Linked DNA regions of Homo sapiens: regions 1 and 2 are each linked to region 3. The links come from fine-mapping of genetic effects on gene expression. A gene starts in region 3. Each other region holds a variant in brackets. All regions are shown on one strand. Distances are between the middles of the regions.

Region 1 (10,599 bases), 40 kb before region 3:
CCTGAATTAACCAAGTAAGCCTTTAAACCCTTACAATGGAACATTAAAATTCAATGTGGCTATAATCTCTTCCTTACAAAACATGAACCCAAAGAGTCTGGCTTCAAGTATGGTTTTAAAAAAGGGGGAATGTATTATATTCACCACCCAGCTCTTCCATATGACCATGTTAAAAAAAACCACACAAATGAAAACTCACAGGCCCATTGTAATATATTGAACCACTTCTGAATGCAACACTTAGCTCAGGCTTACTACTCTGACAAATAAAGGAAAGCACTTTATGAAGCCAATTTAATTGGGAAGTGACAGAAAACATACAGCCATTTTCTTTAGCCTTATCACTGAATTGGCTTCAGCTCCAATCTCTGGCAAATCCCACTCAACAGAAGAAATTAACCAGGTCAGCAGAACAGGTGCTACCTTGTGTCTGTCAAGGGCCTGGCATCACCACAATTACTTGCACACAATGAAGCAGTAATCTTTACAGATCATCTCTCCCAAGAAGCATATTTGGGAGGGGGAGGAAAACTGAAGGGTGAGGGGAGTGGGAAGAAGAAGGGGAATGGGAAGCAAAGAGAAAAGGCAAGAAAAGAAAATGAATGTGCAGCTGCCTTGCAGCTCAGCAGATGTCGGAATGTGATGTACGAGGCTAGGATAAGCTGTCGTAGCCCGCTGCCAAAGAGTGGTAAGTGATTAAAACCTGCACAGTTCTAAGCACCATATTTAGAATCTGCAGGGTTTCAAGACTTGCACCCATTCCTTGCTGTGCTGCCAGATGTTGGCAACTGGTCCAGTTCCTACTGACTGTGCATGGATGGCAGCAGTTGGTGTAGCAGCAAAGCAATCTGGAATGCTTCCGGAGATGCTGTACATTAACAAGTGTCACCCATCATTCACCTTTACAGAAGGCTGAAACAACTCCAATTTGCTGCCACTTCCCTCTTGGGAAACAGCCAAGATAAAGTTGTGCCTGGCAGCCCCATTTGTTTCACTCAGGTGTTTTAGCTGCCTTGCTGACCTCTATTAGTTTAAGTTTTAATTTAGATTAACCCCAGCACCCCAATTAACCAGCAAGGGGAAAAGCTAAGATGTGACTAGTCATAACTCTGAAATCAGAATTTATCGAAGTTAAAATTATTAATTGGGATGAAGGGCCAATCAAGTAATGCTATTTCTTTTTAAACAGACCTCCAGGCAAAAAAAAAAAAAAAAAATTCAGACTAAGGATTGCCAACAGAGGCAACTTCTCCCCAGTAATTTCACTTTATTTTATTAAGCCTATTTAATTTATGATGCACTTTTCATCGAACAATGTACACTTCAATTAATGAGGACTGGAACATTTTTGATTGTCTCCCGTGATCTCACACAATTATACAGCATTAATATCCCATATCAGGTACTTCCTTAGACACTCTAGAACAAAATAGAGTTCCTTACTCTTCTGACAAATGAATATAATAAGAGAAGAGGAAAAAAGAATCAGGACCTCTGACAGGGAACAGCTGCAGCCACACCAATCTTTTTTTCCTATACCCTCTAGTCATTACTTTTAAGACTTACTTATGGCAATAATTTTATCAAACATTATAGAATGAATAAAAAAAATTAATAGAAAGTCTCTTTCTCTTTTTAGGGCAAGACCAGAGGTATCCCCAATATAAAATCACTTGTTCTATATTGACTTTACATGTAATTTTCCTAAGAAGTTCTTCTTCATATCCATATACACAGTACAGCAGTCATGGCTAAACCCTCAACAAGCAGTCGCAAATTACTTGGCTAAAGCTAGCACATTAAAAATTTGACAGAGAAAAAAATTATCTTGATAAACAATGGCTCAACAATAACTGGTATATCACTGCTGAACAGCTTCCTCTATTCTCCACTAAGCTAGAAAGGGTACAGCCAAACACACACTCTATTAAGAAGTATAATTTGTCTGGCCGGGTGCAGTGGCTCAAGCCTGTAATCCCAGCACTTTGGGAGGCTGAGGCAGGGAGATCACGAGGTCAGGAAATTGAGACCCTCCTGGCTAACACGGTGAAACCCCGTCTCTACTAAAAATACAAAAAATTAGCCAGGCCTGGTGGCGGGCGCCTGTAGTCCCAGCTACTCGGGAGGCTGAGGCAGGAGAATGGCGTGAACCCAGAAGGCAGAGCTTGCAGTGAGCCGAGATTGCGCCACTGCACTCCAGCCTGGGTGACAGAGCGAGACTCCATCTCAAAAAAAAAAAAAAAAGTATAACTTATCAAGAGACTCAGGAATACAGGAAGTTATTTCAGTTCTCTAGAACAGCCCAAATGTTTAGTCTATCTTAACAGTCTCTGGCATCATTAAAAAGAACAGCATGCCAGCAGAGAGTAATGTCAGGGAAAGAAGTGGGGGAGTCTGAAAACATATTGAGAACTGGACTATATTTCAACTTCTACCAATTCTCTCTGTCTTCAAAAGCACTATGCTCTTATTATAATCAACAGTTGCAGACATTCTCAATACATACTTAACTGACTTCGACAGGCACAAAAAGACATTAAGAACAAGATTTAACAGATAATAGGATCAGTAGCGCAATTCAGGAACTCTGGGATCCCAGCCCTCCAGCTCCACGGCCCATTCTAATAGTAATGAGACAAGAAACCAAATAACTTAACAAATCCTCCATCATCAAAAATGGCTCAGAAAGAACCCACTTGACTCAGAGAAAAAAACCTGAAACTGTTTTACAGCTAATTTACACTCAAGCAACAACAAAGTAGCTATAGCTGTTTTCATTTCAAAAGGAAAACATAAAATAGAAGAAAAGCAACAAATCCACAATGACACTGTAAGTCAATTTTGAACGCGGGAGTTCTAACTCACTGTCTGACTCTATCCTTCCAAAATAAGCAACTTCTTTGTTCAGAGAATTCTATAAGCTGCTTTAAAATGCTAAAACATGATTTGTAACAAGAGAGTGTAAAAGTCTCACCTGGTGGTAAAAGTCATCATCATCAAAGATTTCTTCATCCAAGTCCTTCAGATGAGCATTAGCAGGGGCTTGAGGAAGGATCTCCTATGTTAACAATGAGTAAGAAAAGAGTGAATCCCAACAAGGCTATCTAACTAATGTAGCTACTATAAATAATATGTAGAACAGTCAAAGCACTGTTTTCCTTAAGATATAAAAAGTTCTTAAAATTAAAAAACAAAACAGTCCAATATGAAAACAGGCAAAAACATTAACAGGCAGTTGACCAAAAAAACCCATAAATAATCATATGAAAATATGTTTACCCTCATTCAAATTAAATATGTGTAAATTAGAATTAGAAGATACCATTTTTCACCTCTACGACTGAAATTAATGCAGCCTTTTTGGAGGCAATTTGGCAACATCTATCAGAATTTGGTGTATTTTCTTTAACACTTCCACTTCAAGAAATCTACCCATATATTTATACGAACACATAATACATGTACAGGAATCTTTCCTGTAGCAGTGTTTCTGAAACTGGAGACAACATAATATCCATTGTTTGCATAAATGATAGTGCATATCCATACAATGGAATACTTTGAGGTCATTAGGAAAAATGAGGTAGCTCTCTAGGTAATGAAATGGAAAGAGTATCTAGGACTTATTAGATTTTAAAAGTTGCAAGACTTTAAATACAGTTGTAATATTTTACATATTTATACTACATAAATGTCTCTCATTTAGTAAAAAAGGCAACCATATTTATACATATATATTTGTTATTTGCACACATATATAGTTACACAAATAGAAAAGACCCAAAAACTTGTTACAACTATTAATTATTAACTGTAAACTTGTTACAACTATTAAATACTGAAAATTTCACCTCAGGAGTTACGTTAACAGGCAATTGACAAAAAAAATAAAAAAATTTCACCTCAGGAGTGAAATTTTCAGAGTAGAGAATTTTGCTTTTCATTTTAAGTTGCTATAAACTAAAAAAGGATTAAGTATATATTTCTTCCATAATTAAAAAATTTTAAATGTTTCCTTTAAACAAAAGAATTTGACTATTCCACTTCTGCACCCTTTCTAAAGTACCTAAATGGCAAACGTTGAGCCTAAAGTACACACTTGTTTCAATACTGACATTTCTACAGAAGTAGCTTTAAAACTGAATTTTGAAAATTGGATTATGAATGCTTCTACTACCAGACTCCTGCATCAAACTCAAAATTAAGAGAAGATGACACACAGGAGTTAATAGAAGCCCCATTTTTAAAAACTCTCTCCTCTCACATACACTCAAGTTTCTCTCAGTAATCCAGTAAAGTAGTGTTGCTTTCCTTTCTCTCACTAACCTCTTATATAAACAGGTAATAGCTACAAGTTTTTCAGCTAATAAGCCTCATAGAAACTATTCCCCATAATCACTCTGCATTACAGAGTTCTTACCGGTTCCCCTGGCAAACTCTCTGGGACAGGCTGAGCTGCTGGCTCAGGTTTGCCAAGAACTCGATAGAC[A/G]GAGCGCTTGGTCTGTGTCCTTCGAAGTAATCTCTCTTTGTCCATCAGAATATGGTCGATCTGAGTCAAGATTGAGCGTTCAAAGGCACCAAAACCCTGCAACAACATTAAGCAGTGTCAGATAATGCAGAAAATCAGTGCTGAAGGCAAGCTACATTGGTTTCTCTATCTTTCTGTGTCAGCAGAGAGATAGAAAATCATCTTTTCAGGAGGGACTTTCTGTAAAGGACTGAGTTTGTGAGTGGCTATAATTGTTCTTAAAAAAAAAAAGTTAGTCTTAAGCAGGTCATATCATTTTTCTACACACGGAGATTAGCTTCTGATACTTTAATAATTATTGCTTTGAAATCCACTCCTTTAAAGTATTTGGATTTTCAGCACTTGAACACTTACAAGGCCTCAATTTTAAGAATAAAACATTCTTTCTAATAAAGTTAAAATCCCAAGTCTGAATCGTATAAACCCCAGTGCCAGAAGTTCAGTAGATTTTGCTATAGAAATGAATGATTACCATTACATCGTGACAACATCCATATAAATGAGCTGTAGTTCCAATTTCTTAAAACTTCTTCAAGTTGCCACAACCTATCTTACACATACATGCGCGCATACACACACTTGCCTTCCCCAGTTTTCCAGAAGCCAGTTTGGTCTTATCGTGCCATTTCTGAAGTGTGCGGTTCCTGTAGACTGTAAAGTCGGCAAAGCGCTTTGCCATGAAGCTGGGATAGTCCTCCATCTCCAGCTTCCTCTTTGCAGGGACCCTTCTTCGTTGCTGCTTCTTCTCTTCTACCAGCTCATCATCTTCACTAGAAATCTCCTCACTAGAAAAGCAGTAAGAATATTATGTCCAGTGTAAACAAACATTACTTAGATTTTAAAAACTAGGCTCACATAAAGGACTGAGAATATTTAGGCCTTACCTGTTCTGTCTCCATTCAAAATAACACCAAAGATATAAGGATGGCTTTTGCTCTTTGAGAAGAATATTCATGAGATCAATCAAAAACTCGTGTAACTTTTTTTTTTGAGACAGTCTTGCTCTGTTGCCCAGGCTGGAGTGCAGTGGCGCGATCTTGGCTCACTGCAACCTCCACTTCTGGGTTCAAGCAATTCTCATGCCTCAGCCTCATGGGTAGCTGGGATTACAGGTGTGTGCAACCATGCCCGACTAATTTTTTTCATATTTTTAGTAAAGATGGTGTTTCACTATGTTGGCCAAGCTGGTTTCAAACTCCTGGCCTCCAGTGATCCACCTGCCTCGGCCTCCCAAAGTGCTGGGATTACAGGGCATGAGCCACCACACCCAGCCTCATGTAACTTTTAAAACAAATATAAAAAGAACTAGTTTCAAAATATTTTTTAAAAGGTAAGTAAACCATAAAAATAAATGAGGTTTTAAAAGAATTATTAGAAATGTGTATGAACCAGGCCTGCAGTATTATAGGACAGTATTTAAAAATTAAACACATAACCATATTTCTACGACCTTAATCCTCAAATCAATAAGGGAAATGTGTCTCTCTGTAACCAACTGTTAAGGAAAGATGAATAATATTAGTTGAACCAAATACAAGAGAAGCTGAATGTGAAGAAAACTCAAAGCGGTAGGCAACAATTAGCACTAACTAACCTGCAGTGCCATCTATGCAACTGCCATGGCAATGTAATACAACCTCCAACTATCTGCCAGTTGCACTCACTGGATTACTGACCTCAACATATAATAGGTGCTCAATAAATGTGAGTTTCCTTTTTGTCCTCCCAACTAGTTCAGTAGATAAAAAGTGAAACAAAAGATAAGCTCGAGGGAAAAAAAGCAAGCAGGTATATACAGCAGGTGTAAACAAAAGGGGGAAAAATCTTCATCAAATGTAATAATTTCAGGGGGAAAAAATAATTATTTTGCTGTTTTCTGAAATTTTTCCATCTTTCATAATAACAGCTTTTATTCAAAGGAGATGGCTGTGACCAGTGATTCCAATATATGGTATGGGCACAGAATGTTTCATAAACATTAATTAAGCATTAATATTTTAAAAATGTGCTTTTGGCCAGGTGAAGTGGCCCATGCTTATAATTCCAGCACTTTGGGAGGCTGAGGTGGAAGGATGGCTCGAGCCCAGGAGTTTGAGACCAGATAGGGAAACACAGCAAGACCCTGTCTCTACAAAAAAAAAAAAAAAAAATAGCCAGGCATGGTGGCAAGTGCCTGCAGTCCCAGCTATTTGGGAGGCTGAAGCAGGAGGACCGCTTAAGCCCAGGAGTTTGAGGCTGCAGTGAGCTGCGATCACATCACTGCACTCCAGCCTGGATGACAGTGTAAGACCCCATCTCTAAAAAACAAAGTGCTTTTATCTTCTAATTCCAATAGATCTAAAGAGAAGGCAAGCCTTTGTCTAAGACCGCAAAGCACATCAGGTACAACTAAATATAAAAATCTAAAATCTAATCACCAACTTATGTGCCATCCTGACCATCAGGTAAATATGAGACTCTATTTTACTAACATTAATATCTGCCTGAAGAGAACTTAGCTTTTCTTTCATAAATGATGGGAAACTATCCAAATGAAAAGAAAATAAGCAACTCCATGATTCTGTTCTCTTACCTTCCCGCATTGGGCTTTGTCCCATCTACTAGATATCTAGTGTCTGGGTACTGGAAAAGCAACTCTTCCTGAAGACCTACCAATGACCTCAACAATGCTTTAAGTGCCTTGTGACCTGGGAAATAAAGGACAGAGAAAGGACAATTAATTATCTACAATTCTCCAAAGTAGGTGATGCCTATAACTCATGACTCCTGAGCAGTTCTGGCTGTGGGGAGTGAAGGGGAGGCACAGGATACACACAGGAACTAAATACTCTCTGAAATATTCCCAAATGGAAATAACAACGTTGCCTACCTCACAGGATTGTTGTGAGGAACAAGCAAGATCATGCATGTAAGGTGCTTAGAAAAGTGTCTGCAAAGAGTAAGAGTCCAATACATTGTCAGCTCTTAAATGTATTAAGCTTGACAAACTCCTCCCCGGCCTCTCATTATAACCATTAATTTGTTCCGTTGGTGTTAAGTTTCTTAGGTATCTTCCTACAGGTTACCTGCTGACCTCCTGGACTATTCCTTATCAGTCAGCTCCTTGAGCACTTCCTTCTCTTCTCCTAAAGAGTAGGACTTTGTCTAGGCATCCCCACCACCAACACCTTCCACCTTGCCCCCAGGAGATCTCATGTGCCTCTGGTTTGAGCTGCCACATCCTTCACTCCATCTCTCAACACATATCCTTATGGAAAAGTTCCTGTTCACATACGAAAACCCAAGCTAATGAATCACTTTCTATTTGCAGTATTGAATTGTATATTAAAAATTTGGGCATTGAGAATATATTCTCACCTGGTTCTCCTTGGAGCCAATAAGATGCATATGTAATAGAGCTGGTCAAGATGATGTATATAGTCTACGGATAAAAACTTTCAGAATAAAAACTGGTCGGCCGGGCGCTGTGGCTCACGCCTGTAATCCCAACACTTTGGGAGGCCGAGACGGGTGGATCACAAGGTCAGGAGTTTGAGACCAGCCTAGCCAACATGGTGAAACCCCATCTCTACTAAAAAAAAAATACAAAAAAATTAGCTGAGGGTGGTGGTGGGTGGCTGTAATCCCAGCTACTTGGGAGGCTGAGGCTGGAGAATTGCTTAAACCCAGGAGGCGGAGGTTGCAGTGAGTCAAGATCATGCCACTGCACTCTGGCCTGGACGACAGAGCAAGATTCTGTCTGGAAAAAACAAAACAAAAAAAACTGGTCCTCGGGGAGGACTGCTTGAGTCCAGGAGTTTCAAGACCAGCCTCAGCAACACAGTGAGACCCCGGCTCTAACCAAAAAAAAAAAAAAAAAAATTTAGCCAGGCATGGTGGTGCGTACCTGTAGTTCCAGCTACTTGGTGGAGGGGCCCTGAGGTGGGAGGATGGCTTGAGCCCAGGAGGCTGAGGCTGCGGTGAGCAGTGATCACTCCACGGCACTCCAGCCTGAGCAATAGAGTGAAGGTGAGACCCTGTCTCCAAAAAAAACCACACACACTGAACAAACCTCATCCTCAGCCAGGGGCAGTGCTTATGCCTATAATCTCAGAACTTTGGAGGCCAGGTGCAGTGGCTCATGCCTGTAATCCCAGCACTTTGGGAGGCGGAGGCGGGTGGATCATCTAAGGTCAGGAGATCGAGACCAGCCTGGCCAACATGGCGAAACCCCGTCTGTACTAAAAGTATAAAAATTAGCCGCGCACGGTGGTGTGCACCTGTAATCCCAGCTACTCAGGAGGCTGAGGCAGGAGAATTGCTTGAACCTGGGAGGCAGAGGTTGCAGTGAGCTGAGACTGTGCCACTTTACTCCAGCCCGGGCGACAGAGTGAGACTCTGTCTCAAAAAAAAAAAAAAAAAACTGTGGGAGGCCAGGACGGGATGATTGCTTGGGCACAGGAGTTTGAGTCCAGCCTGCTGAACACAGTAAGACCCCAGCTCTACAAAATTTTTTTTAAAAACTAGCCGGTTTTGATGGTGCGCACTATAGTCCCAACTACTTGGGAGGCTGAGATGGGAGGATTGCTGGAGCCCAGGAGTTTGAAGTTACAGTGAACTACAATTATGCCACTACACTCCAGCCTGGGCAACAGAGCGAGACGCTGTCTCCAAAATCTCCCCGCAAAAAACAAAACTGGTCCTCTGACAACAGAATTCTTACCTTCTCTATTAGAATAACCCTACTCAAGGGGCTAACTAGACACTGAGAGTCACCATTTATGTGTTGAAAGTACTCAGACACCTCTCCTATAATCAAACTCTCACATTTCCAGTGACTGCCAGAAAATCTTCATGTGGTTGTTCCATCACTCCTTCACACATACTGTGTCAGAAACAGAACTTTTTTCTTCCTGCTTAATACCTCTCCCTGTCTGAACCTCTCTGCATTGTTCAATGTGTTTTCATAGATCACTCACATTTGGGTGCTCTTATTCTAGATGTTTAACTGGTTGCTGAATTCTGTGTTTTCCATTCTTACTGTCACTAATAATTGCCCATTTATCTCTGGCCATGCTTCTATCACTCCTTCCATTTTTCACTTAGTAACTGTAGTCTCACAAGCATCCCTACTTCCGTTCAACAATCCCGACATTCATATATTTACATTTCACACAAACTGTAGCCCACACAAACTTAGGTTAAATGATTTTTATGTCTTATTCTTTCTTTTCTGCTTCTGCTTCTACCCTGTCCAGCATGAGCAGACTTCTCACTAGTTTATATCCCAACTTTTTCCATCAGTAGGACACCAATACATGAGTTAGACAAGTTCTCCATATATTTCATACTATAGCATTCTATTTCAATGTCAGGCCTGAGAGCCAACCTACCTGAGAGAGCCATCTCAGACTAGTCAGAAAGAACTCAATGGTCCAATAACTACTTTGCATTCCTTCAAATAATCTGCATATCAAACTATATAAATACAACTTCCTTGTTTAAAATAAGGTCTTTGATTACATCATTTCTAAATTCTGTAATCCTTTATAATCTGCATATCATACCACTTGGGAGAATTTGTAATACATAACTATCACCAAAAAAACTCAAAATGCCTTTGTTCCAAACCAAGATTCTTAACCAGTTGCTCTCTGTCTTAAGAAAAAAATCAGTCTGGGCACAGTGGCTCACACCTGTAATCCCAGCACTTTGGGAGGACGAGGTCGGCAAATCACTTGAGGTCAGGAGTTCAAGACCTGCCTGGCCAACATGGTGAAACCCTGTCTCTACTAAAAATACAAAAAAAATCAGCCGGGTATGGTGGCGCATGCCTGTAGTCTCAGCTACTCGGGAGGCTGAGGCAGGAGAATCACTTGGACCCGTGAGGTGGAGGTTGCAGTGAGCCAAGACTGCACCACTGCACTCCAGTCTGGGCGACAGAGTGAGACTCCATCTCAAAAACAAAAACAAAAAAACTAAGGCCTGATGTGGTGGCTCACACCTGTAATCACAGCACTCTGGGAGGCTGAGGTGGATAAACTGCTTGAGACCAGGAGTTCAAGACCAGCCCGGACAATGTAGGAAGACCC
Region 2 (10,599 bases), 80 kb before region 3:
AACAAACAGGTATGGCTGGCACAGTTCTTTCCTCTTCTTCCTGCCTTGAATGCATGTTTGATGGCGTTAAGTTGCAACAGCCATCTTGGGACCACAGGGGAAAGACCAAGAGATGTTGGCCCTAACACCACCGAGAAGCAAAAGCCATGGACAACAATTGCCTACCACCCCTAGAATTATCCTGTCACAAAGATGAACTTCCATTTCCTTATGCCTCTGTAGTCAGGTTTTATATTTTTTATAGGCCATACCCAAATTAATCCTAATAGAGTCATTTTCAAATAATTTTTATGTCTAGCAAATAGTAGACCTTCAAAAATTAGGAGTTAATATTGGTAAGATTCTGGAAAAACTAAGTACACCTCAAGGGATTCAAGTAAAATTCCAACTAAGAATGGCATAAAGTTGATTTCTGAATGATTTCATAGTACTATGATCAAAAGATACCACTAATATCTAAACTAGATTTCATTTTATGCCTGGGATAATAACGTAACCTTAAAGGGTTTGGTTTAATTTTCAAAATCTAGTTTTGCTTTCTTCTTGATATAATTTTTTCACAGCATCCTGACAGGGAATCTAAGATGCACTCACTTTACTCTGCAATTTTTAAACAGACTGGATCCAGAAATGAACAAAAAACCATGGCCATATCTAGACATTCACTTGCAAAGCACAGGATAGCAGATGTGGTCACAAAGCCAGACACAAATGTACTCAGAACCATCCATAGGCTGTTTTGTGCTCAAAGTACTGAATAAACCAAATAAAAAATAATAATAGTATTTGTCAAAATTTGCAGATCTCATACTTTCAGACAAGGAGGGGAAAATCTGATGGCATTTGGTAGCAAACAAAATACTCTAAAATAAAAAGTTTATATGTAGTTTGAGGGATAAAACTGGCAAAAACCACCTGTGCCTATGTTATGACCAATAATTTCACTTGGTAAATATGTTTAAAAATGCTTCTCATAGCATTATTTACAATGATGACAATTAAAAGCCATTTAAATGTCCAACAATCAGTGAATGGCTAAATAAATATTATAACAATATTATTTCGTCATTGAAAAATTTTAATTATTTTAACGACATGAAAATGCTCTCAGTATATAAAACATTTCCTGAATATAATTTCAATATAAAAAAGAAAAACAGGAAAATACTGAAAGGGAACTTACAAAAACTGAAATGAAATGCTGTAAGATGTTAAAAGTGGCTGTCTTCTGTGTAGGTGTGAGTGTATATACATACACTTCCCGTCTCTGCTGACAGGTCTAGAAATAGCAATACTCACTAACAAGGAGCACCCCTAGTACCTAGATCTTGGTTTCTAAATACCACAATCCACTAAACAGAGCCAGGGCTCCTTCAAGAAAGACTGATTTCAGGGCTGGAAGATGGAAAGTCTAAGATGAGCATTAAACATCTTCTTGTGCCAGAAAGTAAGGAAGTACTCAAAGATTGACTGAAGACAACTTTGAAGGACACAAGCCAGTTTGACGGCACTTCCACTATCTGGGACAATTTTAATATCAAAATAAACATAACTCATTGAATAAAATAGGAAAACATGAGTCCATATTGATATAAATGAATAAATAAATGGTAAATAAATGAGGGAGAAGAGGAAGCTCTTCATTATAGAATGCCAATTAATAGATACAGAAGAAACTATTATTTTAAAAAGGTTATCCCTGAACGGTAATATTATGAGCATACACTTTTTTTCTGTATTTCTCTCGTTTCAGCTTTATAAAATAAGCATATACATCTTTTGTAAAAACACTCACAATCCCCAACAAATACAACATATGCACATCTCCAGAGCACTCACTAGAGCCACTTTCAAAAGGAAAGCATATGCACAACAGCCCCAAGTACAAACGGCAAGAACATGGGCCACCTGCCCTGTCCTAGAGAGCTCACATGTCCCAGGGCGCTGGGCTAAAGTTCAAAACAAAACAGGAAAAACAAACAAACCACCAAAGGCAGCACTGAAATTTATGCAAGTTTTTGGTTTGGTTTTATAGTAATTATGAGGGTGAAGAGATGTGACCCTTACTGCGATGCCAATGACAAATGGTTAACTGATAAGAAGAAATGGAGAGGGCGAAGGCTGTAGAGCAGGTCAATATCAGGCTGTCATGAAGCCATTTGAGACACATAATTAATCTATTACTCACCTGGCATCATCATTCATTGTAGTATGGTCAATAGGTGCCATGAAACTCAGTAGCTTGCTAAGGACATGAAACCTAAATAAAGCAGGAAGCAACAGGCAGCAACATTAGTAACTATTAACCTAGGAGAGGAAACACATTCAGTGAGTTAACAAACTCCAGAACTGATCACTGGAACATCTGGGTACAAAGTGGGATAGGGAAAAATTCATAGGCACTTACCACTGTCATTGGGATGACCAACTACAGTCATCCCATGGTATCTGTGGAGGAATGGTTCCAGGACTCTCTATGGATACAAAAATCCACGGATGCTCAAGTTCCTTATATAAAATGGCATAGTATTTGCATGTAATCTACACACATGCTCCCATATACTTAATTCATCTCTAGATTACTTAAAATACTTAATGCAATGTAAATGCTACGTAAATAGTTGTACAATGTATTGTTCAGGGAATAATGACGAGAAAAAAGTCTGCACTTGTTCACAGGTACAGACATTCCTTTCCCCATGCCTGAATATTTTCAATCTGTGGTTGGTTGAATCCACTGATGTGGAACTCACAAATATGTAGGGCTGACTGTACATTTTTCCCTTTTTCCCTAATGCTACAGGAGAAAAGTCTGATAACAGTATACTGTAAATGACAGTTCAACACAGATTCATTTATAGTACAGCCCCAAAAAAGAACAGGTACACTTGTGCTTTTGAGCAATATACAACCCTTAAACATTATTCCAGACTAAAGACAATGAGGAATTGACTACCTCATTTTCTTCCTCTACATATATCTTAAGCATTTTTCATTTTAATAGATGTCACAAAAGCCATCTACTGGCAGCAGCACAGGTAGTGGTACAGTATCTGAATGCAACACCTCACCAACACCACACACACTGCCACTGGTTCCCCAAGGCAGAAAAGGGGTCTGCAATTCCACGTCATCTCCATGCACTAGATCCAGGGGGTCTTTCATTTCCCCCACCTTTAAATGGAGAAACACAACTGAATTCACAGTAAGTTTGATTCCTAGATCTTCAGTCTAGGTACTATGGAAGTTTAAGTTATATCACCTACATTTCCCACCAAATGGAAAAAAAAATATTTTGTATGATGTGTTTGAGATGCTCTAGAAAATATATGACCTTATACAGACCAAATCATACCAAAGATAATTCAAAGGGGTATCCTTTTCTACTCATTATAATGTGCCCTCTCTATATACATAAAATAAAATTCTAACCCAAAAAACTCTACTAGGGCAAAACACTATCCATAAAACAAAATGTGGTATTTTCATGTATTTAATACATAATATTTTAAAGTTTTAGGAACATTTTTACACATATCAAATAATTTAATTATTTATTATATCACCCACAGCTCAGCCTCCCAAAGGTAATTCTTTATCTCAACAAATGAATTTTACAAGAATAATACTGGTTAAGATTTTTCCTATTATACAAGTAATAGAGGCAGGGTGTGGTGGCTCATGCCTGTAATCTCAGCACTTGGGGAGGCTGAGGCAGAAGGATTGCTTGAGACTAGGAGTTCAAAACTAGCCTGGACAACATAGTAAGACCCTGTCTATACCCCCACACCAACCCAGAAAAAAAGTAATACAAAAGGTATAAAATACAGAAAATTGAAAAAAAACCAAACCACACAGAAAACACATACAGTTGGCCTGGCGCAGTGGCTCATGCCTATAACCTGAGCACTTTGAGAGGCCAGGCAGAAGATCACCTGAGCCCAGGAGTTCAAGACCAGCCTGGGCAACATAGCAAGACCCCGTCTCTACAAAAAGTAAAAACAACTGGCCAGGCACGGTGGCTCACACCTGTAATCCCAGCACTTTGGGAGGCTGAGGGGGGGCAGATCACCTGAGGTCAGGAGTTCAAGACCAGCCTGGCCAACATGTTGAAACCCCATCTCTACTAAAAATACAAAAATTAGCCAGGTGTGGTGGCACATGCCTGTAATCCCAGTAAATAGGGAGGCTGAGGCAGGAGAAACCCTTGAACCCGGGAGATGGAGGATGCAGTGAATCGAGATTATGTCACTGCACTCCAGCCTGGGCGACAGAGAGATTTTGTTTCAAAAATAAAACAAACAAAAACCAAAAAGTAAAAAAACTGGCTGGGTGCAGTGGCTCACGCCTGTAATCCCAACACTTTAGAAGCCTGAGGCGGGTGGATCACCTGAGGTCAGGAGTTTAAGACCAGCCTGGCCTGCTAACACGGCAAAACCCTCTCTCTACTAAAAATACAAAAATTAGCCGGGCGTGGTGGTGTGTGCCTGTAATCCCAGCTACTCGGGAGGCTGAGGGAGGAGAATTGCTTGAACTCAGGAGGCAGAGGGTGCAGTGAGCCGAGATCAGGCCACTGCACTCCAGCCTGGGTGACAGAGCAAGACTCTGTCTCAAAAAAATAAATAAGTAAAATAAAAAAGTAAGAAAACTAGCCAGGCACGGTGGCATGTGCCTGTAGTCCCAGCTACTCGGGAGGCTGAGGTGGAAGGATTGCTTAAGCCTAGGAGGTTGAGACTGCAGTGAGCCCTCCGGTCTGGGCTTTGTAGCTCAGGCTGGAGTGCAGTGGTGTGATCATGGCTCACTACAGAGTATGAGCTTATCTAAAAAACAAACAAACAAAAAATCCCACACACAATCCTTCTACCTATAGACAATTGTTGTTACGTTTGTTTCACATAATGATCCTTATATATATATATATTCACACAATTTTGAATGAATTCTTTTCTCACCTAGCCTTATAAGCAATGTCCCATAAACAATTTATAAATAGCTGCATATAACCGTAGGAACAGAAGTACCCTATTTTCATATTTTTGAACACATACATTGCTTCTAATTCTTCACTTTTTGTTGCTGTTGTTGTTGTTGAGACAGGGTCTCACTGTCACCCAGGCTGGAATGGAGTGGTGCTATCTCGGCTCACTGCAACCTCTGACTCGCAGGTTCAGGCCATCCTCTCACCTCAGCCTCCTGAGTAGCTGGAACTACAGGAGTGTACCACCATGCCCAGCTAATATGTGTATTTTTAGTAGAGATGGGGTTTCACTATGTTGCCCAGGCTGGTCTAGAACTCCTGGACTTGAGTGATCCACCTGTGTTGGCCTCCAAAAGTGCTCGGATTACAGGCGTGAGCCACCATGCCCAGTCTAATTCTTCACTTTTTATAAAAAAGGCCTCTATGTATCCTTGTTTTTTTGTTGGTGATGTTTTGTTTTTTTGAGATAGGGTCTTGCTTTGTTGCTCAGGCTGGAGTGCAGTGTGCGATCACGGCTCACTACAGCCTTGACCTCCCAGGCTCAAGCCATCCCCCCACCTCTGCCTCCCAGCCCCGACCACCACCAAGGAGCTGGGACTAGAGGTGTGCGCCACCATGCCTGGCTAATTTTTAAATTTTTTTTTTTGGTAGAGAGAGGGTCTTGCTATGTTGTCCAGGCTGGTCTCAAATTCCTAAATTCAAGTGATCCTCCCACCTCAGTCTCCCAAAGTGCTGGAATTACAAGCATAAGCCACTGAGCCTGGCCAATACATAACTCTTAGATGTGAAATTGCTGAGTTGAAAGGTATGTATATGTAAACTTGACTGAGTCAAAATGCCTTCCCAAAAGTTATGTCAATGTATGAGCATAAATATTTATATAACCTTTTTATTTAAATATAAACCAAAAATACTGTTAATTAAATATATCTTTTAATGTCCTTAGGCCTCACTAAACTTCAGTGTCCATCTGAAAGTATGATTACTATTCTTGGCTGTGTCCAGAGACGGCTTTAATTCACTTTCTGGACAAAGACTATGAACTGTACCCTACAGTTGTGTTATGCAATACAGTAGCTACTAGCCACACGTGGTTACTGTGCATTTGAAATGGGGCTAGTCTGAATTGAGATGTACTGTAATTAAGTATAATATACAAACGAGATTCTGAAGACTTGGGACAAAAAAAATACATATCACTAATAATTCTTAAAATAGTAAATTGTTGAAATAATATTTTTATATATTGGGTTAAATGAAATGTCACTAAAATTAAGTTCATCTTTTTCTTTTTACTTTTTCAATGTCGCTACTAGAACATTTAAAATTGCATATATAATACATATTAATATTTTTATTAGATGGTACTGCTCTGTAGAATATCTTTACATTTAATACAATATAGTTAATAACTATTAACTACATGATGAAATACAGGCTTTAGGAAGAAATCAGATTAAAGACCATTTAGTAATCTGTACTTAGCATCTAGTCTCGGTGCCACTGCAAATGGGTGTATGTTTTAATATTAAATCATCTTTTACCAACCATACTAAGAAAAGACAAATATTATTTTGTTGTGGAAGAACAGACCAACACAGTAAGACGTCATATTATTAAAGGCTTGGGAGTTTGATCCATTTACATTATGATTTCTGATTAAATCATAACTAAATCCACTTATATGTAATGCTGAGTAGAATACTGACAATCAATAATTATAATTACTGTATTTCCAAAAACCAAAATATTTGTTTTTTTAAAAAACGTTATTTTCTAGCATCCAATTAGCAAGTCTGACCAGGCTGTACCATTTAAACTAATGAAGTGTTATTATTTAAACTGTTTCCAGAAGGTAATGTTAATCTTTGCTACAACATTTCTGGAAGTCTTACATATACAACCCTATCACAAACAAGGAGCAAAAATTGCTCAATGGTGGGACCTAGTATCAGTGATGACAGCTGGCATACACTGTCTGTTCTTGAAGTTTAACTCAAGAAAGTTGTTTATAATATTCTCATCTAGCCTGGGGGGCCACTTGGTTTAACCCCTTAGGAAAGGATGCTAAGGTGGCCAAGATGTCATTCTGGTGCCTGTATAGGGTTGGTCCTGCCAGTGAAACAACTCAAGATCCAGAGATTAGAAGAACAGGCTCTGGAATCAGACCAATTAGTTCAAATCCCAGTTTGCTACTTACTATGTAACACTGGGGATGTTACATCACATGAATTAGCTCATTTAGTCTGCATAACCACCCTATAAAATTGTCACTTCTATGATTATACTCCTTTCACAGATGAGGAAATTGAAGCACAGAGATGTAAAGTAATTTGTTCAAAGTCTCAAGGCCGGGAAATGGAAAAGTCAGCTTTCAAACCTAGGCAGTTTGGCTCCAGAGCTTATGCTCTTTCTGCCTCCGCATGTAAACTGATTAGCAGTGCCTGACCTGGGATTTCTGGAGATGTTAGTTCTTACGCTATTGCTATGAGTAAAGACTACTCTCTGATTCTGACCACATCCTCACATTTATGGTCTCAAGATGAGCCAGGTGAGTACAGATGACAAAACCAAAACCAATTCAACACACATGAACTTACATTAAAAACTTTTTGTTCTGTAATAATTTTGGGCTTC[T/C]AAGACCCCACATTACACCTTGCTGTGATGTCTCCTTAGTCTCCTGCAATCTGTGACAGTTCCTCAGTCCTTGTTTTATCATTACTTTGACACTTGATGAGTACTGGTCATTTATTTGGTAGAGTGTCTCACAATGTGGATTTGTATGCTGTTTTATGATGAGATTAAGGTTAGGCATTTTTTTGCAAGAATACCACAGAAATGATGTTGTATCTTTCTACTGAAGACACAGGGGGTATAGATATGTCTTTTTACTGGTGCTGTTCATCTTGAACACTTGGTTAAGGTGGCATCTGCTAGATTATTGCAAAGCCACTATGTTTCTCTTTGTAATGGACAAATATCTTGGGGGAGATACTTAGAGACCAAATAAATACAGTTTCTCCTCAAATTTTTGCCCATTGATTTTAGCATCTATTGTGGACCTTGCCTGCAAAAATTATTACTGTGGGGCTTCCCTAGTGGTGGTTTTCTATTTCTCTCATTCCCTTTACAACTGGATTCCAAAAGGCTTTTATGAAACAAACTAATCAAGATAGTAAAAGTTTACACAGAAATTCTAGAGGCCTTTCAAGTATGGAAAGTTTTAGTTTGCAGTTTCTGGAACTCTTCAGTAACCAAAGGCATTTCATGTGAAGAAATGTGATCACAAATGAAACGATGCTGCCCTTTTGTGATTTCTCTGAGGCACCAGGCGCTCCTGACCCCTTACTAAACACTGTCCTGTATTCATCGCTGTCGTAACCTCCTCCTGCCCTCCCCCGTCAATGGCCACTGTTCCTCAGCATTCTTTATGGGCTCCTCTTACTCTAGCTCACGTATGTTGACATTCTTCAGGATTCTACTCTTGTCACTCTGTATTCTTGTCACACCGTACCCTCCCTGGGTAAACAGCAATTAAACTGTTGCCAAACTATCAACTAATAAATACCCACATCCTCCTCTCGACTGAAAAATATCTCAACTTGGATTTCTGAAGGTTGTGTCAAACTTCAACATATTCAGAAACTGAATCCACTCCCTCCCTCAAAAAACAACAACAAAAAAGATGTTCTCCTTGCAGCCTCTCTCTTATACATATCAATGATTACTACCAAGACCTATCTAGTTCCCTGAAACTCTGGGAGTCATTCCAACCTTCTCACTTTCCTTTACCTCTTCATGTGTGGCCACTCTTAAGTAAGAACTACTCACCTGTATAAATGTCTCTCAATCCGTCATCTCCTATTCCTTCCAGGCCTTGCTCTCATAACTTTCTAGTCCTTTATAGAAAATCTCCTACAATTATCTTTTTTTTTTTGAGACAGGGTCTCGCTCTGTGACTCAGGCTGGAGTGCAGTGGCATGATCTCCGCTCACTGAAACCTCTGCCTCTCTGGTTCAAACGATTCTCCCGCCTCAGCCTCCCGAGTAGCTGGGACTACAGGCACATGCTACCATACCTGGCTAATTTTTGTATTTTTAGTAGAGACGGGGTTTCACCATGTTGGCCAGGCTTGTCTCAAACTTCTGACCTCAAGCCATCCACCTGCCTCAGCCTCCCAAAGTGCTGGGATTACAGGTGTGAGCCACTGTGCCCAGCCAATTATCTTTCTGAAATGTGCATGTGATGACAATATTCCTCTGCCTAAAATCTTTCAATGACTCACTACAGTCTACAGAATAAAGTCCAAAATTCTTAACGTGGTCATGATCTAGCACTCACCCATGCATGCAGCCTTATCTCCTGCCATTCTCTCATATTCACTTTTGGTGCTGGTATAGGCCAGTTGGCCAGTGAAACAACTCAACAGCCAGAGGTTAAAAGAACAGGCTCTGGAATCAGACCAATTAGTTCAAATTCCAGTTTGCTACAAAAGTCTCTGCCAAAACAAATTAATTACAGTTCCCAAAATGGGTCCCAGACTCTCTCAAGCTTACAAACCTTTTTGTACACATTCTCTTTGTCTTTCACTGGGCAAACGCCTACTAATCTCTCAAGGCTCAGTGAGGAAGTCGTCTTGTGCAAGTCTTCCTGAGCAGTCTGCATCCCTCAAGGGTGGAGCAGGATTATTTCTACTGCTACACCTCCCACACAGCACCTCAGTCGGCTAGGGTCTGCCATCCTCTCCAGACTAGTTGGCTCTCTGATGCTGTGGGTTCAGCATCCACAGATTTAATCAACCATGGATCAAAAATACTTAAGACATAAATGATTGTGTCTATATTGAATATGTCCCAATTTTTTTTCTTATTATTCTAAACAGTGTAGTGTAATAATTATTTACATGGCGTTCATATTGAACTAGGTATTATAAGTAATCTAGAGATGATTTAAAGTATAGGGAGGATGTGTGTAGGTTATATGCAAATACTATGCCACTTTATATAAGGAACTTGAGCATTGTGGATTTTGGTTTCTGCAGGGGTGGGGGTGTGGGGCTGTTTGTGCGTCCTGGAACCAATCCTCCACAGATAGCACAAATGACTGTGTATGCTCCCTGAGGGCAGACTGGGTCTTAACTACCACCTAATGACCATCTTCTTAGAAGGTGAAGGACACTAAAACCACTTACTATGTTTTCATGTTTAACTCTGTTTAAAAAGAATGCCTCTTTTTAAACTCTGTTTAAAAAGAATGCCTCTTTTTAAACTCTGTTTAAAAAGAATGCCTCTTTTTAAACTCTGTTTAAAAAGAATGCCTCTTTTTAAACTCTGTTTAAAAAGAATGCCTCTTTTTAAACTCTGTTTAAAAAGAATGCCTCTTTTTAAACTCTGTTTAAAAAGAATAAGATTTTACTGCCTCTGGATATGAGAATGTGGGGATCTCCACTGCTATCAAAATGCTGCAAAAGCAAAGGTATCTAATTGCATTGACACATACCTGTAATGAACAGTTTAATGAAGCTAGTTGAATTCATTAATATAAAAAGCAGTTGCTATTAAAACAAAATCCTGGTTTTTTCTTTTCAAACTGATATATTGAACATTTTTGAATGCCTACTA
Region 3 (10,599 bases):
CCAAGGGGGATGGGGAGGGGAGAGCAAGGGCAGATGAGAAGAAAGCACAATAAACATGGCTCAAGCTCCCAGTCCACTTCAATCAAAGCTGTCTTCATTTGACAAAGTGGTTCTAAGTATTCCAACAGGACATAAGTATTCTTACTATTTTTCAGGGCACTGGAAAATTCTGGGCCACCTTTGTCCTTGAACAATGGGAAAACATCTGGTTGAGGAAGCTGGTTGGTGGTCAACAGAGCTTTTTGTAGTTTGATCCTTCCTTCCAAGAGCTGGTCCCACAGTGCTGAAAAGAAGAAAAGAGAATCCCATTCCTCAATAATAAAATATTCTGGGGGTGAGGTGGCAGGGGTGGGGAAGAACAGGAAACCACACCAGTCTCTAAGCACCACAGCTTTAGCAGTTTAATGCCATGGAAACAAATATTCTCTATTAGAGAAAATAAATTCAGTATCCATGAAGCAAGTATTTGCTACAGCAGAGTGGGAATGCTAAAACCCAAGGAGAGGAGAAAACACTCTTCTCTTCAATCTTCCCCAGTTGCAGGAAGTACTAGAGCAGAACCAGCTAAGCAGATCAGTGCAGAAATGGCTGGCTAAGCATACAGGAATAGGGCTTTAGGCTTCTGGGTAAGTGGGGCATGTCACAAACTAATTGAAAGGACACAGGAGATAGAGAATAGCCAAAAACAAACAAATGAAAAGTAGACCAAATGCAGATACTTTGAAAAACAGGCAATCAGCAAAACCATGTACAAACCTATCTGGTTCTTCACGGCTCTTCCTTTCTCCACTTCCTCAGAAACTTTGACACTAGAGAAGGTCATCACCACACCATCATCCTCACTGTTTCTATCTCCAGCCCTGTCTTCCTCACTCTCGCCTTGGGAGTCTTCCGCGTCATCCCCTTCTTCCATGCCACTCTCTTCGTCTTCCTCCTCCTCACTGCTCCCAAGGTCATCCATTCCCTTGGTAAATTTCTCAAAGTCACTGATACTCTGGACACTGAAGCCCGGTGTTTTTGCAGAGTGGCTTCTGCTCTTCTTGCTCTCCCTGTGATCACCACACTCCTGTTCCTCAGCAGCACCCAGGTCGTCCTCATCATATTCCTCCAGACCCAGTCCCTCTGAATCTTCATCTCCAGACCCTTCCTCATCAGATATTTCCTCATCTACAAAGAAGAGAGGGAAGAAAGAGAAAAATGGGTATTACCTGGAGAAAATACCAAGCCATAGACTTCATTTCAACTTAAGCACTGTGGCATCAGGGGGAAAATCTCTTACTGCACTCAATTCAACAATATATTTATTACACATCTACAATCTCCAAAATGCTAAGGGAGAAGCAAAGATGAATAGAACACGGGTCCTACCCTAACAAAAGGAGCTAGTGGGAAAGACAGACTCACAACATTACAACTCAAGGAAGCATCAGAAGTGCTTTGACAAAATTTCAATAACCCAGAAGAGTGAGAAATTTTAACTGTGGGGCAAGTGAATTTAAGCTAATCTCTAAGGAAGAGCTAGCATTTGCTCTGGCCCTTGAAGAACAGTAAGATTTCAACTGGTGTTAGAGAATTACCAGTTTTCCCAAACCTGATCTGAAAAAATGTACAATCTATCACATCCGTCTGCCCTATTTACTAAATACTTATTAAGCACTCATTATGAGCCAGGGGCTAAGGAAAGGCAAATAGAATTTAATACTTGCTGGGAGGAGTTCATGGTCTGGTGGGAGTGGTAGATATGCATGCCAATAATTATATTACAAGGTCATTAGTACACAGTGTATGGAGATGGAACCACCTAACTCTCCTGGAAAGGTGGGGGATGGTATCATGTGGAGAAGGAGACATTATAATTTTACTTATGAAGCATAAGGCAACAGCTCATAGATAATGAAGGGAAAACGCACTGGAGTGCAGGATGCACAAGGAAGTGATGGGAGATGAGACTAATCAGGAAAGGTCTCGTCTTTCATGAGGACTCTGAACTTGATCCTATAGTAGACAGAGTGCTAGTTAAGGCTCTTTGTTTGACTTATGCTTAGAGTATCATCTGATATGTAGAGGTTTTTACAGTTTATCCAATCTGTTCCATGGTAGAACATAAAAGCCCCATGTGTTTCAAGTATGATTCTAAGATAGAGGGACCAGTTTCCAAAAACTTTCTTCAATAAAATAAAGATTTTAGGAAAGCGTGACAGGTCTTCAGCGCTTCTTTAAAAAGGTATATATAAACTTAAGACACAAAGCTGCCAAAAATATAAATACAAAAACTAAGTGCCAAAACAGTAAACAGAAATTATTATTTAAATTCTTTGAATGTACGCCATTTCTCAGATTAAGAAACATTCATACAGAGTTTACTAGAGTGTACATCTTGGAGTCAGACAGCCTACATTTGAATCATGTTTCTTCCACTTACTAACTATATGACCTTGAGCAAACTTATGTAACCAATTTGCCCCTCGATTTCCTTATCTGTAAAATGGGGCTAAGTAGTAATAACTTCCTGCGCAATTGGGAGGATTAAATTAGGTGACACATGTAGTGATAATGGTGATAATTTTTTATAAAAATCTGTCTAATTCCAGGTAATTTTATAATTTTTTTTTTGAGGACTTACTGTGTCCCAGGCTCTTAGAACTTAAATTATAGAGCTAAACTCAGTGCCTGACGCATGGTAAGAACTCAATAAATATTATCATATTTGTCTCATGATTGGTCCCTTTATCAGTCTCTAGGCAAAGAATATGAAATGAGCTTATCAGGAGCTCCCAGAACTACATCAAGGACTAAATCATAGATATCATAACCTAAATGATAGTTCCTTTTATATTATCTGTGGATTCTCAACATGACACCCCTGACCTTTCTAAAGGAAAACAAATGACATTCTCCCAATAATCACCATATCTAGCCCCTTCTTCCACTCTGAGAAATTTACAATTCTTTAAAACTATAAGCGCACAGACTCCTAACTCTTTTGCAGGGAAGAGAAGGATTATGTGATTTTTTAGAATGGCAAAAAATGAGTTTCACAAATAACTAATATCACACAGTGCTTCAATGCAAGTCCTGGAAAACCAAAGGTCAGGGGTCACAATTCAAGGATAACATGTTCATCAGACACAGTGGTTTTTCAGCTCATAACCCTCTCCAGTAGCCAAAATGCACTGCCTTCTCTGTCACTCCACTGTAGGGTGAGCCATTAGTCCGAACATAAGGAGTATAGCAACTTAATCACTCTGGGCTTTAGATTCCTTATGAAGTGAAATGAAGTAACCTCTAAGACCCTTTCTAATACCAAATCAATGGTCTCTCCTAAGATAACAGATAGGGGTGCCTGACCAACATGGACAAACCCCGTCTCTACTAAAAATACAAAATTAGCCGGGCGTGGTGGTGCATGCCTGTAATCCCAGCTACTCGGGAGGCTGAGGCAGGAGCCTCGCTTGAACTCCAGAGGTGGAGGTTGCGGTGAGCCGAGATGGCGCCATCACACTCCAGCCTGGGCAACAAGAGCCAAACTCTGTCTCAAAAAAAAGATCCGCAGACTACTCTTGCAAAGATCATGGGGGATGACCGGAGGATTTTAACCCTGAAAAAATTAGGGAAGAGAAGAGTTCCATTCAAAAATGTCTACTCACCAGACGATCCTGGCAGAGTCTGCTCCCAATGGTCTTCATTCCATGCTTTTCTAGAGGTGGTTTTGCCGCAATACCTTTTGTCCGTGTCCAAGAGGGAGGCTGATGCCAGTTTTCTAATGCTACCCACTACTAGGAAATCACCTTCCCCATCTTCCCCTTCATCAAACCTGTCAATCACCCTGGCAGCAGTGGCTGTCGGGGGAGAGGGAAAAGTAAACAGAATCTCCAGGTTAGCAGAAACTTTAACGGGAACCCTGGTCGACCCATTTATCTCATAGTTGAACGTCCTTTACGAAATCCCCACCAACTTCCAGGAATAGGAAATTCACTCTCTCCCAAAGTAGAACACTGTCTTACTGCTGTTTCTAAACAGAAAGTTGACTCCTGGCATCTACTAGTGGGATCTATTTCTATGACTTGGATCCTATCAAACTAGTTGAATTCCTCTTCAATGTGTGACAGTCGCTCCAATATCTTAAATCAGTCATCACGTTCTCCCCTCACTCTGTCCCATTCTTTGGGGAGTTTTCTTTGCTTATTCTGGCTAAACAGTCCCGAGTTTCTTCAACTGATCTTCCTAAGATACGGTTCAGCACTCGCATTTATCCCTCCTTATTATCCCTTTCTCACACTTCCGACTCAAGTCTAAAGCGGGATTACTCCCAGCTAGACTCTGAACATCAGCTTACAGAACAGGAGTCTCAGTCGTCAGCCACTGAACAAGTGTCTTGAGACTTCAAGAGACTTAAACAGCACCAGAAAATCCTTCCATCAGTCTCCAACTTAGTTTTGAAGGGCAACCTGAATTAAAAACATGCGACTTTCTTCTCCTCCTTTCTAACGCAATACCAGAAAGGGCATCCTCAAAGCTAACTTCCAACTTGCTAGCAGACTCTCTGGCTCCCTCCAACAGGCCTGGAGCAAGTAAACCTGAAGACCAGCTCCTCTCGGCCTGAGCCCTCGATCTGTTCCGCCCATCCAGCCGAGCACCAAGTTTCGAGTGCGTGTGAAAAGAAGCCGAAGCCCTCCTCCCGAGGCCGGGACCACCCTCGCGGGAGGCGACGTTCCTCTGCGCCAAGCGAAGGAGCGCAGGCCCGGCGGCCTCGCGCACGCCCCTCCCACGCCGCCCCCTTGCCCCACAGGGCCTGGCCCACCGCTCCGCACGTGGCCTGCCCCAGTCCGGCCTCACCTTCCTCGGGGTCCGCTTCAGGGTCCGCCTCGCTTGGTCGCGGGTTCAACAACTGTTCCAGTTGCAGCGCCAGGGGCTGCGGCCCCGCCATCGTCACCAGCTCCCGGTCCACTCCGCTTCGCGCACGTAAATGTGCGGCCCAACCCCCGGCCCCGAAGCTCCTTCCCTGCCGGATCCTCTCGCCTTGATCCGATTCCCCGACTCCGCCAGAGACCGCGCGGAGGCCACCCCACAGCTCTGGACCGGCCACTTCCGGGAGGCGCGCGGGAGGGGGCGGGGCCTGCGCGTCACTGCGGGCGTTGCTAGCATGAAGGCGGAAGCGCGCAGAAGGTTGAAGGGATTGGAGCCGTATGGGCGCGTGTGCGCGTGCGCGTGCGAGTGCGCGGGAAGGGGCGGTGCGGAAGCGCGCCAAGGCACGTGACCGCTTCTGTCGCTGAGATGCGATTGCGATGCGCGCGGCCAGTGTCCCCTTGTACAAAATATGCCTCGAGATTTGTGCGAGATTCGCTTAGGAATAAAGCATAGCGTAGCCGTGGCCCACGGTGGCTGATTTGGGAAGGAGGAGGGAGTAGGGCTTAAGCTGCTCGAATCGCGGGTGCGCACTCGGGCACGCAGAGACTGGGACCCAAAGCAGGTTTGTCATTTCGCAATTTATAGTAGTCTGAGGCCGGGCACACGCCTCCCGCCCTTCAGCGGCCAGGATTTGGGAATCCTATGTCAGGGATATGCACGTGTAAGTGTGTGGCGGACTGCTGGCGTCTTTCTTAATGGGAATACTTAGGAATCGCTGTGGCTAAAGATAGTTTCAGTAGCGTCTCTAAGTACCCTTGCCTGAGCAAGGGAAAGGGGGTGGGGTGTGGATTACTCCACTGCATACCCCTCGGTATTGATTATCTTTGCTGTTCAGAGATGAGGGCATGCTCAGGCAGCTTAAGCAGGTGCACAAATGCAGAAAAATACAGGTCTACCGTTAGAGGGACAGACTCAAAATATAAAGACTTAATAGTATAAATGTAATTGCACCCCGCACACGGAAAGACACAATCGCTTTACATCCTCTTTCCTTCATCAAGCATTCCCTGACTGCCCACTATGTGGCAGGCACTGCTAGATAAGATACAAGATAAGTAAGTTGGATTCTCCCCCCCACGGTAATCAGCCTAGGAGGGTAGACAAACATGTAAACAGAAACTGCAATAAGGGATGATAAGTGTGACTACAAAGTGGTCTATTCTTATGGTATCTGTTGGAGGTTGCCTGTAGAGACCTAGACCCCTCTAAACAGAATCTGCCTCAAAAGGATCCAGAAAAGAGATGTTAGTGGTGCACTGTGGCAGTGCCCCTTGGGTACAGCCCGGGCCAGTTGGATCCCACAGCTGAACAACTGGGGAACCCTCAGCTCTCTACTGTCTCCCATGAAAACCAAGGGAAGAGAGGATCTCTGACTTTCACAATCTTCATATGTCCTCAGGGCCAAGAGCAATAAGAGGACACCACTTTAGTGGAGCCTGTTCCATGTCCCTGTAAAGTGGCCCTTGAAGAATGAAGACAACCAGGGCTGCAGAGGGGAAGGAGAACCTGTCTGAGGGTAAACCCCCTCAGACATGGAAGGAAAAGAATGCCAGGCTAGGCAGGGCACTCAGGAGAAGAAAACGGCTTTTTACCATCCATAAGAGAGCTTAGCCTAAGAGAACAGTTTTTCGTTTATCCTCTATAATTGCAGTCTTGTGCCTGTGTCCGGGCCTCCCAAGCAAAAGTGTGTTCCTTGCTCCTTGACAAGGTGCCATGGGGCTTCAAAGGACAAAAATGTTTCTCCCACCCCACATTTAAGAAACTACCTCCTGCAATCCTATCCCCTTGCTATGTTGGGTACTTACAATGCTTAGAAACCTGGCCTTTGAGGTAAAGAGAAGGAAGAAAAGAGAAAGGGAGGTGAGTCACTGCAGAGACCACCTCTAAGCTGTCATGCAAACAGGACACTGCTGGTCAATTTGGGGGCTGTGCTGGGCAAACACTCAGCAGAAAATGCCATAGACCTGTTTACTTACTCTCCCTTCTCTGTCCTGGTCCCTACTGACTTGGGAAGCCATTTTAGCAAGGAATCAAGACCGTTCTACTGTCACACACATCCCAGGGCCCCCCAAAATGTTTGCCTGACCTTATACTGAAGGTAGAAAGAGGACTCCAGGAGTGGAGGGAAGAGGAAGTAATTCTAGGAATTAAGATGCAACTGAGAGTAGTTGAGGCAAGGGACAGGGGAGCAAATTCTCAAATACTCCCTCTGGGGGCCTCTCCCTACCTGCATTCCAGTGTCTTGAGATGGTGGGGGAAGGGCTTATTGATGGGGTAGGGATGGAGATGGAGAGTGGACTGTGGCGAGGAGTTTCAACCTCTGACTGATGTAGAGATGAGAGCAGATGAGAGGAACAGGGAGAGGAGAATAAGGGTGAGCAGTTCCCTAACAGAATGGCCTTCTCCAGAGAAGGCGGAGGGGCGCCCAGTCCACAATCCCTCTCCCTGCCCTCCAAGGGCTGCAAAGTGGCAGGCGATTAGGCACAGCAGAGGATGGGCAAGGGGTGACACTTTCCAATTGTCCCAAACAACTGTCTGCTCACTTGACAAGGAGTTTCAAGAGTTTGGGAAAACCAAGTTCCCACTTGCCTCTCTTCAGATGCTGTCCACCCTCAGGTGCCAGCCCTGGCAATGCCTATCCTGGCTCTCCACAGGTAATACTTCCCCAAGTGCCTCACCTAGAGCAGCTTACCAGCGGCAGCCAGCCCGGAGAAGTTGGGTGGGTGAGCTTCAGCTCCCTCGCCAGAGCAGATGGTGGCTCCCTGCTGCTGGAACCCTGAAGGCAGGTGGCGAGAGGCACAGAGGTGGTGGCTTTAAGATGGCCACAGGGAGAAACCAGGCTGCCCTCCCAGGCGAGAGGGGACTGCAGTGGCGCTTCCCTCCTGCTGCGCCTCCTGCGGGAGCTCCGCCTAGGTATGGTGCCGCACGTCCCCGCACCTCGGGGCCAGAGGTGGGCGGCACAGCACTGATGGGAAGGAGAACAGGCCCTGACATTTCCAGGCCTCCTCCTTGGGGCCTTCGGCTCCAAATTTGACTGCTGAGCGTTGCCACCTGTTCGGGTTTTCGCCAGGATTCTGAATCCCGCGACGAGGGGAGAGACTGCGCCACAACCACGTTGTTAGAAGAATCGAATCCACATCGTGTGCCCAACTCGAAAACGCTTCTTATCAAATACCCCGATTGCACAATAAAGCTGCTAAATAATTCAGCAGCCTTGATAGGAAAATGCAGCTTCCCAGTGAGCGCAGTTCATTTAAATGAATGTCTTTAAAGGGGGCTAGGGAGTAGAGGCTATAATGAATAAGTTAGCTAGGATTTAATGTGTATAAATGCTAAAAAGGTAAAAACAAGCCGATCCAGTGATTGCATATAAAGCAAATAAAGAAATGTGCTGCATGCAGAGGCTGGGAGTTTCAAAAGTCTCCTCTGTATTTCATACATTTTTATTTCTGAAAGAACACTGCCAGATTCCTCCCGGATAGCCTCCTCCCCCATTAGATAAGCCATCATATGGATGCAGTGAAATATTGCTTATTTTAAAGCCTTCTCTGCAGGAAAGATAAACTTGGCTGTGTCTTAACAAAATTTGAAAACAGCACTGGAAATTATATACCATTTAATGTCAAACCTTTGACTTTTTAAATAAGGAAATAAATAATCCAGAGTGAAATCTAGGTGATATGGAAAAGAAATCCTGGAACTCTAATAGCATCTGATACTGAAACACACACACATCCACAAGAATATTTCATAGTAGATAAAATATTCAAATTTCTTCCAAGTCTAATGAAGGACTGGAAAGAATCGAGCTACTTTTAGAACCTTTTGAGTTGAAATTTGATTTTGATATTAGTTATTTTTGTTCATCTTTCAGAGAAACTTAATATGTATCTTGTGCCAGGCAAAATAGTTTTCCTTCTGGGGAACTTCAAAGGTAACAAATACTATAAAACAACAATTTCATATCAGTTCTGTGAAAGGGATTAAAGTATTTCATTTCTAGCTGTACTATACATTCATTTTACATTATCTTTCAAACCACCAAATTAGAAAGCCTTTACATTATCTTTCAAACTACCAAATTAGAAAGCCGGATTATCTATAGGAAATGAAATGAAACTGAAAAGGACCACCTCTAACTATGTATTACAAGTATCTGATACAAGCCCAGTTTTGCATGTGCAGGGAGAGTGAAAGAGGGAATGCCTTGGATCTTATGCCTAATCACAGACCTGGACCACTCATTTTTTAGCCATGGATTTGATTTCTATTTCAAATTCTATATTAACTTATCAGCAAACATCTCTTCAACGGTATCAGTTAAATCCACAGGATGTAAATCTGTAGCTAATAACAGCAGGAAGCCACAGAGAAAAGCTTGGCTGGCATTAGCAAAAGGTTTCAGCCATAGCCAAGGCAAAAACAGATATATCATCCCAATCCTGCCTCTCTTTTCCACCTGGCTTCTGAGGACCCATTCAGCTCCCCATCAGGGTTCCCCTTTGAAAACATCAAATAACACACCAATTATCTAAACATCAGATTTTCTATTTTTATTAAAAACTCACAAATTTATTCAACATGTTTTCTTTCATACAGTGAATGGTCTAATATGCACTGGAGGTCACACAAGCTTAGGTTTATTAGAACAATAAAAGACATATGAGAAATTTAATATATAAAGAAAAAGTAGCAGCTGTTGACTGCATATTTGACCATAAAATTTAAATATTTTGGACTTTTATTTTAAAGACACAAAAATAAAACCTGTGTGGGTCTATATAAGTCATATTAACAATTCCATGAATGTTCAACAGGACAAAAAAATTAGCAAAGATGTTTTTTTTTAAATCTTGTAACACTTTTTTTTTTTTTTTTTTAACACTTTCTCAGGTTGCTGGTGCCAGGCACCTTTACAGTATTTGTGCTATAATTATTCTATTTGGCAACTGTCTGAATAGCATGTTTTCTCTTTGCCTCGTGTAAACAACACCTTTTTACATACTAGCACAGTGAGCCGAAAGCCCTGCAAATCTGTCAGAACATCTACAGGAAAAGAAAAGGAACAATTTTGGTTGATTGCTCAAAACATTTTGTTTTCGAACAAGAGGTTTCAAAACAGGATATATTAGTAAAACACTGAACTCCTGAATTTAACATTATACGTAAACAGTTGACTGTTTTTAGTTCAATAGTCTTTTTTTTTTTTTTTAACTTTTTGTGTGTGAAGGTAGAATACTTTTCTTGTACAGCTGATGTTCAAGTCATTTTACTGAGCGGTCTGGCTGGAGACCATCTTACCGAGTGTGTCCGTGTACGTGTGTATGTGTGTATGTGTAGTTTTGCGAAGGTAGAAGAGTTGATACGGAGGGCTTTACATTTAGAATTTTGCAATTTTGGCAAAAACAAAAACCAAAAATCCAGATAGACAAAAAATATATATATAGTCCCACCTGATGCACGGCAGGTCGGCGTTTCTGAAGCTATAAGAGTTTTTTGTCGCTGTTGTTGAACTCTGAGACAACACTAATAAGGGATATCCCAGAGCTAGAACCCTCCTGGCTGGCCCGGGAGCGCCCTGGGCCGCTTCACTTCCTTCACCCGGCTGTGCTCACGGCCTCCCTCCCCACGGCTCCTGGCATCGCCAACGGCTGTGCGCACCCGCGGCTGCCCTGGACGTCTTTTCGCCGC

Direction of the effects. Positions count from the first base shown, and alleles are read on the strand shown. Sizes are in standard deviations (SD) of each study's normalised expression. Not every link is listed here.
For the expression in substantia nigra of the gene that starts at base 5,099 in region 3, C is the high allele of the variant in region 2 and T is the other (moderate effect, 0.53 SD a copy in GTEx).

Evidence for each region. PIP is the estimated chance that this variant, and not a neighbour inherited with it, causes the effect.
Region 1: its variant is the best candidate, but not a certain one, in a credible set for the expression of AATF in whole blood (INTERVAL, PIP 0.88).
Region 2: its variant is the best candidate, but not a certain one, in a credible set for the expression of AATF in substantia nigra (GTEx, PIP 0.88).

What each region holds. Positions count from the first base shown.
Region 1 is chr17:36,983,233-36,993,831 of GRCh38, reverse strand. AATF (apoptosis antagonizing transcription factor) reads right to left here. Exons shown (of 12, transcript NM_012138.4): 5 at 7,101-7,215; 6 at 5,112-5,313; 7 at 4,421-4,585; 8 at 2,975-3,058. Among named protein-coding and RNA genes, the nearest start is that of AATF, 40 kb to the right of the region's middle. The variant A/G (reference allele first, on the strand shown) is at 4,490.
Region 2 is chr17:37,023,275-37,033,873 of GRCh38, reverse strand. It overlaps AATF (apoptosis antagonizing transcription factor), which reads right to left. Exons shown (of 12, transcript NM_012138.4): 11 at 2,189-2,260. MIR2909 (microRNA 2909) reads right to left here and starts at 129; the gene lies at 61-129. The variant T/C (reference allele first, on the strand shown) is at 7,616.
Region 3 is chr17:36,943,454-36,954,052 of GRCh38, reverse strand. It overlaps AATF (apoptosis antagonizing transcription factor), which reads right to left and starts at 5,099. Exons shown (of 12, transcript NM_012138.4): 1 at 4,837-5,099; 2 at 3,648-3,839; 3 at 757-1,167; 4 at 146-283. The coding sequence starts at 4,927. LHX1 (LIM homeobox 1) reads right to left here. Exons shown (of 5, transcript NM_005568.5): 5 at 9,441-10,599.